Homo sapiens: one gene and its partners. The protein of the gene in region 2 interacts with the protein of the main gene of each other region in a pairwise test. Each region holds a gene or a part of one and is shown on either strand. Other genes may lie near its edges.

Region 1 (3,992 bases), on a different chromosome or scaffold from region 2:
CAACATTTTCTTGGGCTGCTTTTGATGGTTTTTTTTTTCCCCCTTCCTGTCCTCTTTTTCCAACCCCAGAACAAACTGCCAGCGTTCCTGGTTGGTGTTGCTAACTCAGGTCACCCTGAGGCTGCCCTGTCTTTCTCTTGCTTGTTGTGAGCCCCTCCCTCTACGCCCATGTGCCCGAGGCTGTGCCGCTGCCTTGTGCAGGCACCCAGGGTTTATGCCAGTGATTTCCTGACACAAGCAGCAGCACAGAACGTGTGTGTCCCAGGTTTAGGTTTGGGAGGCCTGCCTGGAGAACAGCCATCCCAGGTTCTGGGAGCTTTCTCAATTTACTGTTTTATCCAAAGATGGGTTGGCCTTTCTCTGGACATAGTGAGCTTCCTTGGGCTAGTTCTTAAGCCTGAGACTAAAAGTTCTCACCATGAGTTATTAGGGAGGCCTGTAAAATGTAAAGGCCATGCGTTTTTTTTGCTCTGTTACCCAGGCTGGAGTGCAATGGTATGATCATGGCTCACTGCAGCCCTGAACTCCTTGGGCTCAAGCAATCCTCCTAACTCAGCCTCTGCATAGCTGTGACAACAGGTGTGTGCCACCACACCTAGCTAATTTTTAAATTTTTGTAGATACAGGGTCTCCCTATGTTGCCCAGGCTGGTCTCAAACTCCTAGGCTCACATGATCCTCCTGCCTCAGCCTCCCAAAGTGCTGGGATTACAGGTGTGAGCCACTGCACCCAGCCAAGGCCATGCACCTTTAAGTTCTTTACCTGGGCTTTACTCTAAGATGGGAGGCCTCAGAGTGAGAAAAGCTGCTAAGAAGTGGGAAGGAGCCTGTACCTCTGGTGATTAGGGATTTCTCTTTTCGTCCACCCCCATTCTCACCTCCACTGGAAGTAGACCTGTAAGAAAAATTAAAGCAGTTTAGAAAGGGTTGAAACTGTTTATTCACCCATCCCTGCCAAAATTTTCTGGAACATTCCTAGTTTCAGATGTTCCTTATATCTTAAAACAGCATAAGAACTGTTTTTTGTTTTTAAAAAAAAAATTTGTAGAGATAGAGTCTCACTGCGTTGCTCGGGCTGGTCTTGAACTCCTGGGCTCAAACCCTCCTCTTGCCTCAGCTTCCCAAAGTGCTGGGAATACAGGCATGAGTCACCATGCTTGGCAAGAACCGCTGGCTATAGACCATGACTTTTTTTTTTTTTTTTTTTTGAGACGGAGTCTCACTCTGTCACCCAGGCTGGAGTGCAGTGGCGCAATCTCAGCTCACTGCAACCTCTGCCTCCCAGGTGCAAACGATTGTCCTGCCTCAGCCTCCCTAGTAGCTGGGACTGTAGGCGTATGCCACCACCCTCAGCTGATTTTTGTATTTTTTGTAGAGATAGGGTTTCATCATGTTGGCCAGGCTGGTCTCGAACTCCTGACCTCAGGTGATCCACCCATCTCGGCCTCCCAAAGTGCTGGGATTACAGGCGTGAGCCACCACGCCCATCCTATATACCTCACCCAAGTCGTGTAAATAAAGCCTGAAACTTGGGAAGAGGAGGCTGGACTATTGAGGTCTTATTGAGGTTGCTGTGCAAATCAAGATGATCCCATTTCTAAGAAATGGCTAGTCTGGTATAGAAGCTAAGGATTTGTTTAGGAAAGCAGGAAGCTCTTGAATATGAATCCAAGCTCAGTGGAAATGGGCTGAGTTGAATTACATTTAGCAGGTGGCTGCTGCCGTTCTAGAGAGAAGAGACTTGGAGGGACCTCTGCCCTCACTACCAGGCAGACCTGGCTTGGCAGGGTGCCTTGAGCCTCACTGGAACAGCAGTTGGTTTTCCCAGAACTCACCCCAGAAGCCTGTGTCCTCTGATAGCACTGGCCAGTTAGGACAGGAGGCTTTGATTCCCAGAGAGAGCCAGCAGGACTCCACTCTCATCTATGCAAGCACAGGCTGAGGGTGGATGGCATTAAAGTGACTGCACTGCTGAGTGGGGAATAGGGGCTGGGAACTCTCCTGGAAGCTTTCATCATATTAAAAGTAGGCATTTCTTTAACTGCAAAGAGATACTTTTATATTTTGTACTCAGTGGTAAGGCAAGATTAATTGGTACCTTCCTGCTTCTGTTCATTCCTGTATTCATTTGAGTTTTTGCTTTTACATTACAGGTAAATTAAAAGATCTTGGGAACTTGGTTCTCCGACCTTTTGGGCTCTCCACGGAAAATTTCCAGATCAAACAGGATTCCTCTACCGGCTCGTACTCCATCAATTTCGTTCAAAATCCAAATAATAACAGATAACAAAGATAACAAAAGCTTTACAAGCTGACTTGGAATTGTGTGCTGCTTGCTGTTAGCTAGGGGAAAGGCCCTGCCAATGTTTAACTTTTAAAAGCATCTTATCTAAAAGAAAGGCTATCCAGTAGAGCCCAGTGCTCCCTTGTCCCTCTTTTATGATCAGGGTGAAATGTACTTCCTGATGTAATGAACCTAATTTGATTTCCATTTTAAGGTGGTGTCTGTGCAGCTGGTGTCCCCGATTCTGGCTGTCCTATGTCCAGGAAGAAGCCCATTTGTTGAGGCTGACCTTCCTGATCATACACACACACAGCCCAGCAAAAGCCTCTCCTGAACCAAACAAACCTGTTGGTTGGGAGACTGCCCAGACATGATTGATGACGGGTTCCCGCCTGCTGTCCCCTCCCTGATCACACAGCTAACGAGGCTGCCTCCAGCATTTCCTGATTTCCTCTGTGGTAATAAAAGCTTTCTGTGCTTAGGTCTGGGTTAGGTTGTGAATTTTGTCACGTAACGACAACTAAGGCAGAAGCCTTCTCTGGCTTTGGGAGCAGTGTTGGTTTCAAGCAGGGTTACTGATTCCAGATTCCACAGATCTGCCCAAAGTTTTTGTTGCCTTGAAGATTTATCTTGAAGAGTTGACCATTCTACCATGTACTAGAATTCAGAAAGTCCACCTTACAAGCTATCTTGGGCCCCTCCAGGTTTGTATAGATAATTATAAATCTGTGTTTGACCAAATGTTAATATTTTTAACTTAAAATAGCTTCATTGAGGAATGGTAGTATATGAACCCCAGAACAAAACCATATTCTTTTAAACTACATGAACCTAGAGGTGTCAAAGATAGAATTTTTTTGTGCTCATCAGTTGATGCTAGTGAGAAGCTTGCAGTTGCTCTGGTTTGAGTCTCAAAAGCTTGACATGCAAGTTTCATCTTGGATGTAAATTACACATATAATTCTGTAAGTGACATGCAGTAGTCAGTCATACTCCCAGTGTTAAGGACTATGTGGTTCTTCTCATCTGTTCCTAAAAGCTTTTTATCTTTTTTCTTCTTTTGGTCAAAGTGAACCTCAGAAGAAACTGTTAAATCTGGCATCCAATTTTCCTGAAAATGTGTGTGTGAAAAATCACACAAGTTGTATGGAAACCGTGTGGAATGCTGGATGGTCTGGTAGTCAGTGTTCGGTGCTTCCTGTGCAGCCAGCATTATGCTAGAAAGTGGTTCTCATTTTTTTTTTTTTTTTTTTGAGGGGGGTCTCGCTCTGTCACCCAGGCTGGAGTGCAGTGGCGCAATCTTGGCTCACTACAACCTCTGCCTCCCAGGCTCAAGCAATTCTCCTGCCTCAGCCTCCAGAGTAGCTGGGATTACAGGCATGCACCACCACACCTGGCTAATTTTTTGTATTTTTAGTAGAGACAGAGTTTCACCATGTTAGCCAGGCTGGTCTTGAACTCCCGGCCTCAAGATGATCCACCCACCTTGGCTTTGGATTACAGGCGTGAGCCACCGTGCCCAAACTTTTATTTCAGCAGCCCTTCATAGTCTGGAAAAAAAAATTTTAAGAGCATTTCCATTTATGTGCATTCTATCAATATTTAGTATATTAAAAATTAAGATAGAAAGTGTTAAAGTAATCCCTTTGAAAAATAACATGTTTCCTGTTACTATAAATACTTTTATGTCAGGCCAGGAACGATGGATG
Region 2 (5,039 bases):
GAGAATGACATAGACTCGTTGTTTGGTCTGATGGTGGTTCCGTCTCAAAATCGGCTGGACAAGCACAGTGTTCCATGGCTCCATGGCTGGCTGTTCTGTGACCGTAGGCAGATTCCTTAACCACCCAATGCCTCCATTTTTTCCTCTGTTACATCCAAGCCTTTCCTTTTGCCACCTTCTCTTTCTGCTGTAGGCCTGGGTTGCCAACTATGAGAGACCCCGAATGAACGCCAACTCCCTCCTGGCCAGCCCCACAGGCCTCAGCCCCTACCTGCGCTTTGGTTGTCTCTCCTGCCGCCTCTTCTACTACCGCCTGTGGGACCTGTATAAAAAGGTAAGGGGGACATACCTGCCCACATTGCACCTAAGGCCTGCAGCCAGGCCTTTTGGGCTTGTCAGTCACCCTAAAAAAGGCACTGGTGGGTGGGGGTTGGGCTATGGCCCCTGGAAGGGCCTAAGTGTGTGCAGATAGTCCGGAGGAGGAGAGAAGACTCAATATCCAAGAGGGCAGAGCCAAGCACAGAGTGAACTGCCCACCAGAATGAAGCCCAGACCATCATGTAGAGCAGAAGGACAGGCAGAAAAGCAGGCCTCAGGTGTGACCCTAGAGGTGGCATATCCTCTGGCAGCTGGTGGACAGGGGCGAGGTCCCCAGGGTGAGAGGCATGGAGAGGGTGAGGCTGGAGCCAGTCTGAAGTGGAAGAGCATAGCTGCCCGCTCTGGAGCTGTGTCCACAGCATTCAAAAGGGGAGTCCAGGAACAGCAGTTGCCCATCAGTGATGGAGGGAGTGGTGTGGAGGGGCTGCACACAGGGCTGTGCTATACAGACAAGAAGCAAATAAGCCTGTGTTAACTGTCCCCAGAAGGAGAGAGGGCAACACAGTCAGCATTCAGAGGGATCACCTCATCTTGTGCCTATGTTTTTTGTTTCTGTTGTTTATTTAAGAGACAAAGTCTAGCTGTGTTACCCAGGCTAGAGTGTAGTGTGGCCTGATCACAGCTCACTGAAACCTCAGACTCCTGGGCTCAAGCAATCCCTCTGCCTCAGCCTCTCAAGTAGAGCTAATTTTTTACATTCTTTGTAGAGATAGGGTCTTGCTATGTTGCCCAGGCTGGTCTCGAACTCCTGGGCACAAGCAATTGTCCTGCCTTGGCCTCCCACAGTGCTGGGATTACAGCCGTGAGCCACCATGCCTAGCCGTTGTGTCTACATTTGTTTTTTTGTTTGTTTTTGAGACAGGATCTCATTCTGTCACCCAGGCTGGAGTACAGTGGTATGATCACAGCTCACTGCAGCCACAACCTTTCAGGCTCAGGTGATCCTCCTATCTCAGCCTCCCCAGCAGTTGGGACTATAGGTGCATGCCACCACACCTGGCTAATTTTTTGTATTTTTTTGTAGAAACTGGGTTTTTCCATGTTGCCCAGGCTGATCTCAAACTCCTGGGCTCAGGCCATCCACCCACCTCAGCCTCTCAAAGTGACAGATGCTAGCCACCACACCTGGCTGTATCTAGGTTTTTAAATGTTATCTCCTCATCCTTGCCATTATTGAGATTTTGTGGCATGGGATAGCTTTGCCAGTTTGGTGAGTAATCTTGTGACTTTAGGGAAGTCATTATTTGCTTGGAGGTCTGATTTCTTAATTACCTTATGGCCCCAGATCCAGGCTGTGTGTATAATTTATTCAACCAAAATCTAGACTGAGCATTTTTCATGTGTGCTGATAGGAAAATTCCTTTTGACTTTCTAGAAGGTGGAGCCAAACAGGGAACTCTTGAGGACAAGGAACATGACCAGTCTTGGGAAGTTTGAATCCTAGTGCAGAGTCCTGTGGTGAGGCCCCTTCCCACTGCCTGGCCCTCTGTAGCTTTCTTCTTGCTCAGAGCAGTGGCACAGTGCAGGCAGGGCCTGGGTGTTTCACATGCAGGCATGCTGTGCCACTTCTAGGGGATAGTCCCTCCACATCTGGCAGCTGAGCCACTAGGTCTTTGGAGGGCCCAGATTCCTTTGTAGAAGAGACCTGAGAGGCACCATGCTAAGAGCTGGGCGAGTGTTTGTATCCATGTGCCACCCCTACCTCTCAGGTGAAGCGGAACAGCACACCTCCCCTCTCCCTATTTGGGCAACTCCTATGGCGAGAGTTCTTCTACACGGCAGCTACCAACAACCCCAGGTTTGACCGCATGGAGGGGAACCCCATCTGCATCCAGATCCCCTGGGACCGCAATCCTGAGGCCCTGGCCAAGTGGGCTGAGGGCAAGACAGGCTTCCCTTGGATTGATGCCATCATGACCCAACTGAGGCAGGAGGGCTGGATCCACCACCTGGCCCGGCATGCCGTGGCCTGCTTCCTGACCCGCGGGGACCTCTGGGTCAGCTGGGAGAGCGGGGTCCGGGTGAGTGCTCTCTCAACGAAAAGCTGGCCTGTACCCTCTGGTCAGGCCCGTCAAAGGGCAGCCCCCTTCTGGGCTGAGGGATGAGGTGGGATTTCTGGGTCCAGGAGATCCCCTCCAGATCCTCTGTGGCTTGCCTTCAATGGAAGGGTTTTGGCTCCTGGGGGCACTGTGGTGACTTGGGAAAAAACATGGCTGCATGTCCCCAAGGAGGCTGATCATCCCCTCCCCTATCTAGGTATTTGATGAGCTGCTCCTGGATGCAGATTTCAGCGTGAACGCAGGCAGCTGGATGTGGCTGTCCTGCAGTGCTTTCTTCCAGCAGTTCTTCCACTGCTACTGCCCTGTGGGCTTTGGCCGTCGCACGGACCCCAGTGGGGACTACATCAGGTGAGGATACAGACCAGGCTCTCTGGCCTCTGACCACTGTGGCCTCCTACTAGGATGGGATACCCTGGGCCTTTTGAAGGAGGGTCTGGGTATGCTGATGGGTCATCTGGTGTATCTTATTTCAGGCGATACCTGCCCAAATTGAAAGCGTTCCCCTCTCGATACATCTATGAGCCCTGGAATGCCCCAGAGTCAATTCAGAAGGCAGCCAAGTGCATCATTGGTGTGGACTACCCACGGCCCATCGTCAACCATGCCGAGACCAGCCGGCTTAACATTGAACGAATGAAGCAGATTTACCAGCAGCTTTCGCGCTACCGGGGACTCTGTAAGGAGACAAACACCTAGCTCACTGAAGGGAAGGACAGCACCTACAGGCTCAGGGGGCCAGATGGGGATGTCCAGATACTTGCAAAGGGAGACTGAGTGCTGTCTTTCAGGTTGACACCTTCGCTGGGTATGGGACACTGCAGGCTGGGATGAACTGGGCCTTCCTGAGTAGTTGTGGGGCTGTGGGAGGAAATGGAACCTCAGTGTCTTGCTCCTACCCTCCCCACCCCCACTTGCTTCATCCTGCCCTGTAGCCCTCTGCAATCCTGCGAGACGGCACTCTGATTACTCCTCGCCTCTCTCCCAGGTCTACTGGCATCTGTCCCTTCCTGTGTGGAAGACCTCAGTCACCCTGTGGCAGAGCCCAGCTCGAGCCAGGCTGGCAGCATGAGCAGTGCAGGTGAGCAGCAGCAACCAACCTCCTGTGGCCTCCTGTGGCCTGTGCCACCACTTCAGTCATTCAGGACTGAGGCCAGAAGGAGGCCTTGCCCAGTGGAGCTTATATTCCACCTGGGGCAGTCAGATAGTAAAGAAACCAAGTTGGATCATTTCAGATAACAAGTGCTTTGGAGGAAAAGAAAGTTGAGTATCTTGACAGAGGGACTGGGAAAGAAGGATTTCTTCTGTGTCACTTGAGATTGGAGCAGTCAGGGAACACCTCTGTTAAGCAGAGACCCACGTCATGAGCAGGAGCCAGCCCTGCCACACACTGAGAAAATAACATTCCAGACAAAGGGAGTAGCAAGAAAAAGCTCACAAACAGTACCGAGCTTAGTCCATTCAAGGAACCGAAGGGAGGTCAGTGTAGCGGCATGTCCCAGTGAGGAGCTGGAATGAGATGAGGACAAGATACAGCATGAGCAGCATGTGGCAGGCCTGATGTCCGAGACGAGGACTAGGATTCAGCCTTCAGTGCACTGAAGGATGGTCAGTAGGGCAGGGCATGATTGGACTTAGGTCTGAAAAAGCTCCCTGGCCTGCTGGGTGGAGATTGGACAGTGTAGGCCGGAGCGGGCACAGGGAGGCCAGAGAGGAGGCAGCACAGACAGGGTGGTGGCCGCAAGGAGAAAGACTGGACAGATTCGCTGCATTCGGAGCCTCTTCCCTTCTTGGGGATGAAGATGAGTAACATGAGATGGGAAGAACACGGGTTTTTCTAGTTGGCCCAGCTAGGCTGCCTCCATGGGCAGCATGACTCCTCCACAGGGGCCCTGCTCTTTGCTGCTTGGGGAGGCTGATTCAGGGTTGCAGAGGGAATGCCTCACCTTCAAAGCAGGACAGCAGGCAGGCCAAATCAGTCTCTGGCCACAGCCCATGCCATTTGGGGCCCAAAAGCTGGTCCTGCTACCAGCAGGCCTGCTTGGTCATGTCCTCCTTGGACATTTCCAGGCAAAGTCACTGCTGAAAGCAAGGCCGAGGGGCAGGTCTGAGGAGCAGCATGCTGGCATTCCATTGATAAGTGTGCTCCCTGTCCCCTAAAGAGCTGCTGCTGCATAGTGTGGGATCATTTTGGCTGCATGCACAGTCTGTGTGACCCTTTGACACGCTTCCCTACAGGCCCAAGACCACTACCCAGTGGCCCAGCATCCCCCAAACGCAAGCTGGAAGCAGCCGAGGAACCACCTGGTGAAGAACTCAGCAAACGGGCCCGGGTGGCAGAGTTGCCAACCCCAGAGCTGCCGAGCAAGGATGCCTGAGAGTGAGTGACAGCAGCCTAGATTCAACCTCAGGAAGGAAGTTGGGAGTGGGGGGGCCTACTGCCCTGCCAGCTGCAGGTTGAAACATAGCAAACTAGATGAAAATCTGGTGGGACCACCCAATGCTCAGCCACTAAAGCTTTACCATTTTACAGTGGCAGCCGGGTTCCATCCTGGCTTAGGGAATGAGTACTTTCTGGTTGATATCTGTGTGACCTTTACCATT
Region 3 (5,039 bases), on a different chromosome or scaffold from region 2:
AAGCCCTATTAGGTGTAACTTCTGTGAAACAGGTGGATACCGAGATTCCTGTTTTTTTCCATTTTTTTGATTATGCAAATGTTGAATTATTTAAACTTACTCTTATAGCCTCAACTCTGAGTTATTACTTTAGTTGGATATTTCACAGAGATGTAATTCTGTTAATTTTAAGTCTTAGAAGTCTACAGAAATCACTTGTGAAAAATGAAATTTTATGAATTACTTTGTCTTTTAAAGTATGCTGTTTCGGATATAATTTGCTTTTCATTTTTCAGAAACATTTTCATTTTTTACATTAATAATGACGACGATTAAGTTTCTTTTTCAAAGAGGTCACATTCAGGTACTTAACATTTTTAATTCTCATCCCAAATAGTGGAAAATTGAATGTGAGGGCTATCTGGCTGTGACATGTTACCCCATTGATCCCCAGGGTTGATTCAGCTCATCTGGCTGGCTCGGCAGGTGTCCCCTTCCTCCCTCTCCACTCCACGTGCGTCCCTCCTGAAGCTGAAGCTGCGTGCTTGGTTGAAGAGGACAACCATCCCAAATAGAGGAGGACTGGTCTTGGGTCAAGGGTATACGAGCAGCTGCGCTCCCCTGCTAGAACCTTCGAGCAAGCTCTCAAGGTCCAAATAGTGGAAAATGAAAGTACAGGTTGATTCATGTTGGCAGGTTTTGGTATCAAAAAAAAATTAAAAAGCACACATGGGGGATATACCAATAAAGGTTAGACCATATGCCTAGCTAAGAACTTATCATTTGTATTAAAATATGGTTTAATGTAAAGAGTTGCCTTTCTCCATTCCCCCCTCCCCTCCCCTCCCCTCCTCTCCCCTCCTCTCTTGCCCCCAATTAAAAAATAGCACATCCCTAATGTGGGAAACAGTAAGAAAGCATAGATTACATTTTAGGCAGGGCACAGTGGCTCACACCTGTAATCCCAGCACTTTCGGAGGCTGAGGTGGGTGGATCACTTGAGGTCAGGAGTTTGAGACCAGCCTGGCCAACATGGTGAAACCCTGTCTCTACTAAAAGTACAAAAATTAGCCGGGCATGGTGGCGGGTGCCTGTAATCCCAGCTACTTGGGAGGCTAAGGCAGGAGAATTGCTTGAACCCAGGAGGCAGAGGTTGCAGTGAGCAGAGATCACGCCATTGCACTCCAGCCTGTGCGACAGATCAAGACTCAGTCTCAAAAAAAAAAAAAAAAAATTAATATCATTGGAGATCATACCACCGAAAGTGCTGTTGTTAATCTTCTTGATTATCTATCTGCTTCCTGCATTTTGTTGAGCCATTACATAAGTATATGTATACTTATATGATGTTATGGGCTCCTAATGTAGTCCACTGCAGTGCAAGCTGTTCAGTTAACAGTGAATCATCAACATATTTTCATGTCAGTATTTTTCTGCTATGTGATTATTTTTAGTAGGTATGTAACATTCTCATCTCTGTGTAATAATTTACTTATCAATCTTCTGTTGGACATTGAAGTTGTTTTCAATTTTTAGGATAATAATACTGTCACTTCCCTATATCATGCATTTTGATACTGGCCTACCTAGTATCAGTGATTTTTTCTATTTTTGTTTCTCTGAAAATATCTCAATTTCACCTTTTTTTTTTTTTTTTTTTTTTTTTTTTGAGACAAGGTCTCACTCTGGCACCCAGGCTGGAGTGTAGTGGTGTGAACATGGCTCACTGTAGCCTCAACCTTTTGGGCTCAGGCAATCCTTCACCTCAGCCTCCTCAGTAGCTGGAACCACAGGCACATGCCACCATGCCCAGCTAATTTTTAAATTTTTTGTATAGGCGGGGTCTTGTCATGTTGCCCCGGCTGTTCTTGAACTCCTGGGCTTAAGAGATCCCCCCACCTTGGCCTCCCAAAGTGCTGGGTATAGGTGTGAGCCACCATGCACGGCAGTTTCACCTTTTTTGAAGTGGTTTTTGGTGTTTTTTTTGTTGTTGTTGTTGTTGTTTTTTTGAGACAGTCTCGTTCTGTTGCTTAGGCTGGAGTGCAGTGGCGTGATCTGAGCTCACTGCAGCTTCTGCCTCCTGGGTTCAAATGATTCTCATGCCACAGCCTCCTGAGTAGCTGGGATTACAGGCATGTGCTACCATACCCAGCTAAATTTTTTGTATTTTTAGTAGAGATAGGATTTTGCCATGTTGGCCACGCAGGTCTCCAAACTCATGGCCTCAAGTGATCTGCCCACCTTGGCCTCCCAAAGTGCTAGGATTACAGGCATGAGCCACTGTGGCTGGCCTGAAGTGTGTTTTCACTGGCTATTAAGTTCTAAGTTGGTAGTTATTTTCTTTCAACACATTAAGAATGTTTGGTTGCTTTCTGTCTTCCTTTCTTTTTGTTGAAGTCAGCTACCAGTCTTATTGAAGGCAATGTATTAGCTATATTCTTGCTGAGGATAATGTGTCTTTTATTTTTCCTTGGCTAATTTTAAGACTCTCTGTGTTACTTTTAAAGCACTTTGATGTGTTCAGATGTGGTTTTCTTTGTTGCTTTATGTTTATAGAGTTTTTTGAATCTAGCTGGATGCCTTTTAGTTTTGGAAAGTTCTGTTACCACCTTTTCATATATTCTGCCCCTTTTTTCTTTTTGGATCCTAATTACACATATATTAAACTTAATTATCATGTTCCACATGTTGAAAAAAATTTTTTTCTCTGTTTGGATATTTTCTATCGACCTGCCTTCCAGTATGCCAAAACTATCTTCTCTTTTTGTCAAAATAATCTTTTGTGTTCTTAATTTTACATTGTGGTTTTGAGTTCTAGAGTATTCCTTTGATGTTGTTTTATAGACTTGTAATAGACTCCAGTTCTCTTGAACATACTAATTATAGTTATTTAAATGCTTGTCTTTTCCAATATCGGCATCATCTATTGGTCTGTTTATCTTGTTTGTTTTTCTGTTGGTTATTGGTCATATGGTTGTATTGTTCCGTCTCTTCACATGCCTGATAAGTTTTCGAAGGAACTTACCCATTTCATTTAACTTGTTGCATTTATTGCAAAAAGTTGCTTATAATACTCTATTATTGTTCTTTTAATATCTGTAGAAAGTGTAATGAGTCTAATATCTGTATAACCTGTAGAGATTTAGTATCATTCCGAATACTAGTAATTTGTCTCTGCTCCCCTTTTCCCTGATTAGTCTGGCTAGAAGTTTATTAATTTTATTGAGGTTCTTAAAAAGTTAACTTTTAGTTTAATTGACTGCCTGTGGTTTTCTTATTTCCGCCCTGGTCTTTATTTCCTTTCCTCAGCTTACTTTTGGGTTTAATTTGTTTTCTTTTTCTGGTTTCTTAAGATAGAAGCTGAGGTCATTGATTTGTGACCTTTTTTCTTTTCTAATGTAAGCATGCTATAAACTTCCCTTTAATTGTTTATAATTTATTTATTTGTTTTTTGAGACAAGGTCTCACTACTGCTCAGGCAGTACAGTATCGTGATCATGGCCCATTGCAGCCTTGACCTCTCAGGCTCAAGTGATCCTCCCACCTCAGCCTCCTGAGTAGCTGGGACTGCAGGCATGTGCCACCATGCCTGGCTAATTTTTTATTTTTATTTTTATTTTTTTGAGACTGGGTCTCACTCCGTTGCCTAGGCTTTAGTGCAGTGGCCCAATCACGGGGTCACCACAGTGTCGACGTCTCAGGCTCAAGAGATCCTCGCACCAGAGTCTATTAAGTGCTGGGATTACAGGCGCGTGCCATCATGCCTGGCTAATTTTTGTATTTTTTGTAGAGATAGGGTTTCACTATGTTGCCCAGGCTGGTCGTCAACTCCTGAGCTCAGGCAATCCACTTGCCTCAGCCTCCCAAAGTGCTAGGATTACAGGTGTAAGCCACCACACCTGGCCAGAGTTTATTACAATTTTTTCTGAAGACAAGGATGTCACTGTGTTGCCCATGTTGGTCTTGAACTCAGTTCAAGCAATCCTCTTTCCTTGGCCTCCTGGAGTGCTGGGATACAGATGTGAGCCTCCACTCCTGGCCGTTTCCAGTTTTTGATATGTTTCCATTTTCATTCCATTCAGAGTACTTTATAATTTCTTTCCTGATGTCTTACTGGGTCTATAGTTTATTTATAAGTGTGTTATATAGTTTTCAAATATTTGAGGATTTTCCAGAGATCATTGTTATTTTTAATTTAATTCCATTGTAATGAGATAATTTTAAATTTATTCGGATTTATTTTATGGCCTAGAATATATTCTATCATTGTAAGTGTTCTTCATGTGCAGTTGAAAAGAATGTGTGTTTTGTTGTTAGGTGGAGTGTTTTACAAATGTCAGTTAGGTCAAGTCTGTTGATTGTTTTGTTTATGTCTCATAATTTTTTATTGAATGCCAGGCATTGTGTAGTAAAAAACTTAAGTAAGCATTACCAGGTAATGGTACATTTTGCCGGGTTGGGAGAGGGGTGGGGGAAGGGGAAGTTCATTTTCTATGCAGATAGGCTAGGGAGCTGTATTAGTCTGTTTGCATTACTATAAAAGAATACGTGAGACTGGGTAATTTATAAAGAAAAGAAGCTTAATTGGCTTACGGTTCTCCAAAGTGTATAGGAAGCATGGTGCCGGCATCTGCTTATAGTGAGGCTTAGTAAGTTTCTAGTCATGGCTGAAAGTGAAGGGAGAGCAGGTGCATGACAAGGCAAGAGTGGGAGCAAGAGAGCAAGGTGGGGCAGGTCCCAGACTTTTCAACAACCAGATCTTGTGTGAACTCACTTATTACCGAGGAGATGGTACTAAACCATTCATGAGGGATCTGCCCCCATGATCCAGTTGCCTCCTACTGGGCCCAACTTCCAACATTGGGAATTACATTTACATTTCATCATGAGATTTGGAGGGGACAAGCATCCAACCCATATCAGGAGCCCATCATCTTAAATTATGTGGAGGCTGGGTTGCTATTTTAATAGTTTGCTATCCTTATTTTTCCTTGTTTTTTCAGATGTTGTCTTCTAAGGCATTCATTTCAAAGCCTATTGGTCTTGTCCCTTTAGCAATG
Region 4 (5,039 bases), about 66 Mb from region 2:
CTGCCTCAGCCTCCTGAGTAGCTGGGATTACAGGCGCCCGCCAACACATCCAGCTAATTTTTGTGTTTTTAGTAGAGACAGGGTTTCACCATGTTGGCCAGGCTGGTCTCGAACTCCTAACTTCAAGTCATCCACCCGCCTCAGCCTCCCAAAGTGCTGGGATTACAGGCATGAGCCACCATGCTCAGCAAATTACTATTTTTTTTAACACGCTTTAGATTTTTATCATAATGCCATTACCATAGGAAGGGATCTCTACTGCCAGAAAAACCAGAGACTGGGGAACACACATGCATAGCCTTGACCAAGACCTTAACTGCACTGAACTCTACTTGGCCAGATGCCTACTATGTTCTTGGTTCCTCTGACTGTTTTCAGAAGAATGCAAACCATTCCAGAGTTCTGCCTGTTTTCTTTTGTCTATTTCTGTCTCTTTCTCTCTCCCCATCTCCTCTCAAGGCCTGGCTGACCTGCAAGGTTTCTTTGAATGTCTATCTATGCTCAATAACTGATACCTTCTCCTTTCTCCTATAATAAATAAATAAATTTCCCTTCTACATTCCTCCCTCTGATCAAAACTGTCTACTCAACCACAGGAATATAGGTGAGTGATACTTTCTTCCTTATACTTCTCTGGAATTTTCACAATGTTCTTTTAGTAGTTACCTAACTAGGGGAAAAGTTTCAAAAACTCTAACTGATCCAGTGATCATTATATAACACTTATCTGAAATGCAAAAGCAAAAAAGCTCCTGTGATTAAGTACAAAACAATTTCAGAGCTGTTATTTCATTGGTTCATGGAACTCTTGCAGTCCCCACTTCAGCATGCTGCTGCAGTGAAATAAACAAGGGTTTCTCCTGCTCCCAAACTGAAAGAGAAAATCCGAAAAGAGGAAGGAGTAATCAAGTTGCATAGAGAAGACAATCTTACAGAGAAAGGGTGCCAGGAATTTAATTCTTTGTGGAATATTAGAACTTTAAAAATTCCTCAAAATAAAACACCATCTTAATCTAAAATGCCAACTTTTAAAGAAAGCATAGAATGACTTGAGGCCAACCCAAATGCCCATCAATGACAGACTGGATAAAGAAAATGTGGCACATATACACCACGGAATACTATGCGGCCATAAAAAAGGAATGAGTTCATGTCCTTTGCAGGGACATGGATGAAGCTAGAAGCCATCATTCTCAGCAAATTAACGCGGGAACAGAAAACCAAACAGTACATGTTCTCACTAATAAGTGGGAGTTGAACAATCAGAACACATGAATACAGGGAAGGGAACATCACACACTGAGGCCTATCAGGGGGTGAGGGGCGAGGGGAGGGAGAGCATTAGAACAAATACCTAATGCATGTGGGGCTTAAAACCTAGACGACAGGTTGATAGATGCGGCAAACCACCATGGCACATGTATATCTATGTAACATAACAAACTTGCATGTTCTATGCATGTATCCTAGAACTTAAAGTAAAATAAAATTTAAAAAAGCACAGAATGATTTGCTAGGATGCACCATTCCCAGTAACGTCAAATATTTATCAGATATAACATAAACATTTTTTTTAAAAGTGGTATTTCTTTCCTATGATTTGCCAAATTTTAATTTTATTTAAAAAGAAATAAATAGGCCACAATAAGATAACTTTAGAGAAGAAAAAGAGAAAGAAGTCTACAATCCAGTTTGAAAACACTGGAAATACCCACATATATAAGCCCTTATACATTTTCACATATTTTTTCACATCCTTCCTCTTCACACTCTTAACCATATGATCCTCCATATGATGCAAACATGCCTTTAACAAAACCACCCACACGTATAAGCAGACACAAATATCCTCATTCCTCCCAAATTTCCAGGCATAAGCACCCATAGATGAACAAAGAGATACACTAAATACATATATCAAGTATATAAAAGATACTGTGGAACTGACTCAGGTTATCTATTATATCCACCAAAACATGGAAACAAAGCTCAAGGACAATGTCACATGACCCCATAGGGGCACTCACACTCATCGAAACAGGTCTAAGACAACACTGAAGCTGTCAAGTCTGGACCTGGGATCTGGCAGAGACGGTACATCTGTCACCCACTGCTGCCTGGCACACAAGGGGATACACACATATACCTCTACCTGAAGCCTCACCAGGAAGTCACTTGCTCATTCCTGCTGTCCTATCTGACCTGCCCTGAGCTCACCCTCTCCTAGCACTGTAGCAGCAGCAGTGAGAGTACAAGCAGTAAGCCTTCCTTTCACCCAAACCAGAAATCCAGGCCCTCTCTCTCCCTATGGCAAAGCTAGTGTTTCCCACACCTAAGAATCCTCTACTGTCTCACTGTAGATCTCCTCTTCTATGTCACCTCAAAAAGCCAAGTAGCCATTTCTCCCACCCAGGCCTTTCATCTGATTCCAATCTCCATACAACCTAGTGTATAGCTGCTGAAGACACCAATTACAGGATGGTCAAAAAGAGGATCTTCAGATAAGGGAGGAGTAAGTAGATATATAAAAGAGATGGTCTGAAGATAATGTAATAGATTGAGTAAGAAAATAATGCAAATAAATTGTTTAATGGAGAAAATAAAATCGAAGATACAAAAAATTGGTAGAAACGTCAAATTTATATTCAGAAGATTAAACTTTAATTAGAGCCTTTCTTCATTCCTACAATATTAAGGCAAAATATCTGGTCAGACTGAGATTCCTTTCTAAAAGGAAATGTATGAAAATCATGGATATATGGGCTTTCAATAATCTGTTTTTATCTACTCACCATGGTCCACGAGCCAAGCCATACATAAAGAATTCAGCTTTTCATCAAAGAATTCCACACCCTACAGATACAGAAGATTCCATTAACATACATTGCCAAAATTCAGAAATAAAGATGGTCTATTTACATTACACCAAGGTTACCTGAAGGCTAAAAAAACTTGTTTCCAAATAAACAAATAAGAGATAGAAACACCACAGGAATTACAAACAAACCATAAATCTATTTATTGGACGGAAATCATAAACAAAAAAAAAGCATACGTGAGCTGGCATAGGCCCTGCTAGGTAAAAGAGAACAGGGTGGCCAGAAGTCAGCCACAACACTGCAAAAGAGCAGGAAGAATGCACTGTGTATGGTCTGCCAAGCAAATCTGGATTACCTGTAAAAATGAATTACCCAGGAAAACACCTGTCAGTAATATTACTAATTCTCAATCGTCTTCCCTTTTTGGTTACTATTATGACAAATCCTTAAGGATAAAGCAACTGACCTCAAGACATAGAGATATCCCCAGTTAAAGAGAGTATTTTCGAGACAACAGGAGAAAGCCCTGGAGGGAGAATAAAGCAGGCCCAGGACTACAGGGCATATGGCCCAGGCATGGCTTGCTCTCCCAGCCCTGTTCCTCCCGACTGTCAACAGGTGGCCACTTCAGTGCAGGCTGGGGATGGGCTCCGGGAGCAGATTTACACAGTCCTCTAACCCCGGGGCTTCCACACCACATGGAGAATGCTGTGACACACTTTCCTAGTGCCTCCCTTCTGGGGTCTACACATTTACAGTCTTGCTTCTTTGAACTCTAAGAAGTTCCTGACTGGTGATTCTATATTTTAAAAAAAGAGAGGTAATATAATGTGTCAGTGCTTTGAAAATAGTGATTGAATAAGACAAAATAGCTTTTTTTTTTTGAGATGGAGTCTCACTCTATTGCCCAGGCTGGAGTACAGTGGCACAATCTCAGCTCACTGCAACCTCCACCTCCCGGGTTCAAGTGATTCTCCTGCCTCAGCCTCTCAAGTAGCTGGGATTACAGATATGCAGCACATGCCCAGCTAATTTTGTATTTTTAGTAGAGACAGGGTTTCACCATGTTGGCCAGGCTGGTCTCTTAACTCCTGACTCAGATGATCCGTCCGCCTCAGCCTCCCAAAGTGCTGGGATTACAGGCATGAGCCACCGCACCTGGCCCAAAATTGCTTTGTACTAAAAGATCATAATGAACAAATTTTGGCATACACTTAGATTACGTCAGCCAAGATTTCTTTTTCATTTCAGGTTGAGAATTTTCCTTCAGTTTTAATTAACTTTTATTTTCCAGTTTGTTGTTGTTGTTGTTGTTGTTGTCGAGACGGAATCTCTCTCTGTCGCCCAGGCTGGAGTACAGTGGTGCAATGTCAGCTCACTACAACCTCCGCCTCCTGGGTTCAAGCAATTCTCCTGCCTCAGCCTCCCAAGAAGCCTCCCAAGTAACAGGCACCCACCACCACACCCGGCTAAATTTTTTGTATAGTAGAGATGGGGTTTCACCATGTTGGTCAGGCTGGGCTCAAACTCCTGACCTCAGGTGATCCACCCACCTAGGCCTCCCAAAGTGCTGGGATTACAAGCGTGAGCCACTACGCCTGGCCTATTTTCCGGTTTTTGTAGTTTAACTTTACACTTACTTAACATCGTCCACAAGCCAGGTCATACATAAAGTCTTGAGAGAATTTTATAAAATGACTATCTGATATAAAAATATTTAGATATGAAGAGAAATTAAGGAGAATATATATACTAACAAGAAGTTAAAATTGTAAAGCAAAATGTTCATGACTGAGGCATGTCACCCCTGCCAGACAGGTGTAAGTCAGCCAAAGACACCATCTGCCTTGCTTTCACACTGCTCTCTATAGAGCTAGCAACCCTGGGAAACTTTCCAGGTCTAGAAGGAGCAGAGGTTAAAAGAAATGGTACTAAAATGCACCCTCCCTTCCAGATAGTTTTGGTCTTCAGCAAATCAGTTAATCACTGCTCCTCTCCACTCTGAAAAGTAGATCCATGACAATCACCAGTGAAGAGAAGATGACCCATAGCACTTGGGAGTGACAGACAAAAAGGATGACAAAATAACTTCACCTGATCCCATTTGCCATGCACTAATACCTCTGGTATACTTTTCAAAGAATCGGACACTTTCAATTTTATAAAACATATAATGCCACAGACATCCACAAATTGCATGTTCATAAACTAAATGTACTA

Evidence for each region.
Region 1: the proteins of CRY2 (region 2) and TTC1 interact in a two-hybrid assay, tested with the Homo sapiens proteins (one study listed by BioGRID).
Region 3: the proteins of CRY2 (region 2) and CLOCK interact in a two-hybrid assay, tested with the Homo sapiens proteins (one study listed by BioGRID).
Region 4: the proteins of CRY2 (region 2) and PPP2R1B interact in a two-hybrid assay, tested with the Homo sapiens proteins (one study listed by BioGRID).

The regions. Positions count from the first base shown.
Region 1 is NC_000005.10:160,062,780-160,066,771, forward strand, and holds the end of TTC1 (tetratricopeptide repeat protein 1), read left to right. Parts: intron 1-762; exon of another isoform or gene 763-877; coding exon of another isoform or gene 878-894; intron 895-2,152; coding exon 2,153-2,286; 3' UTR 2,287-2,764; downstream 2,765-3,992.
Region 2 is NC_000011.10:45,867,419-45,872,457, forward strand, and holds part of CRY2 (cryptochrome-2), read left to right. Parts: intron 1-193; coding exon 194-334; intron 335-2,087; coding exon 2,088-2,399; intron 2,400-2,634; coding exon 2,635-2,786; intron 2,787-2,911; coding exon 2,912-3,114; intron 3,115-3,423; coding exon 3,424-3,516; intron 3,517-4,673; coding exon 4,674-4,813; 3' UTR 4,814-4,815; intron 4,816-5,039. UniProt on the Homo sapiens protein: Transcriptional repressor which forms a core component of the circadian clock.
Region 3 is NC_000004.12:55,536,182-55,541,220, reverse strand, and holds part of CLOCK (circadian locomoter output cycles protein kaput), read left to right. Parts: intron 1-4,982; exon of another isoform or gene 4,983-5,039. UniProt on the Homo sapiens protein: Transcriptional activator which forms a core component of the circadian clock.
Region 4 is NC_000011.10:111,745,162-111,750,200, forward strand, and holds part of PPP2R1B (serine/threonine-protein phosphatase 2A 65 kDa regulatory subunit A beta isoform), read right to left. Parts: intron 2,854-5,039; coding exon 2,793-2,853; intron 1-2,792. UniProt on the Homo sapiens protein: The PR65 subunit of protein phosphatase 2A serves as a scaffolding molecule to coordinate the assembly of the catalytic subunit and a variable regulatory B subunit.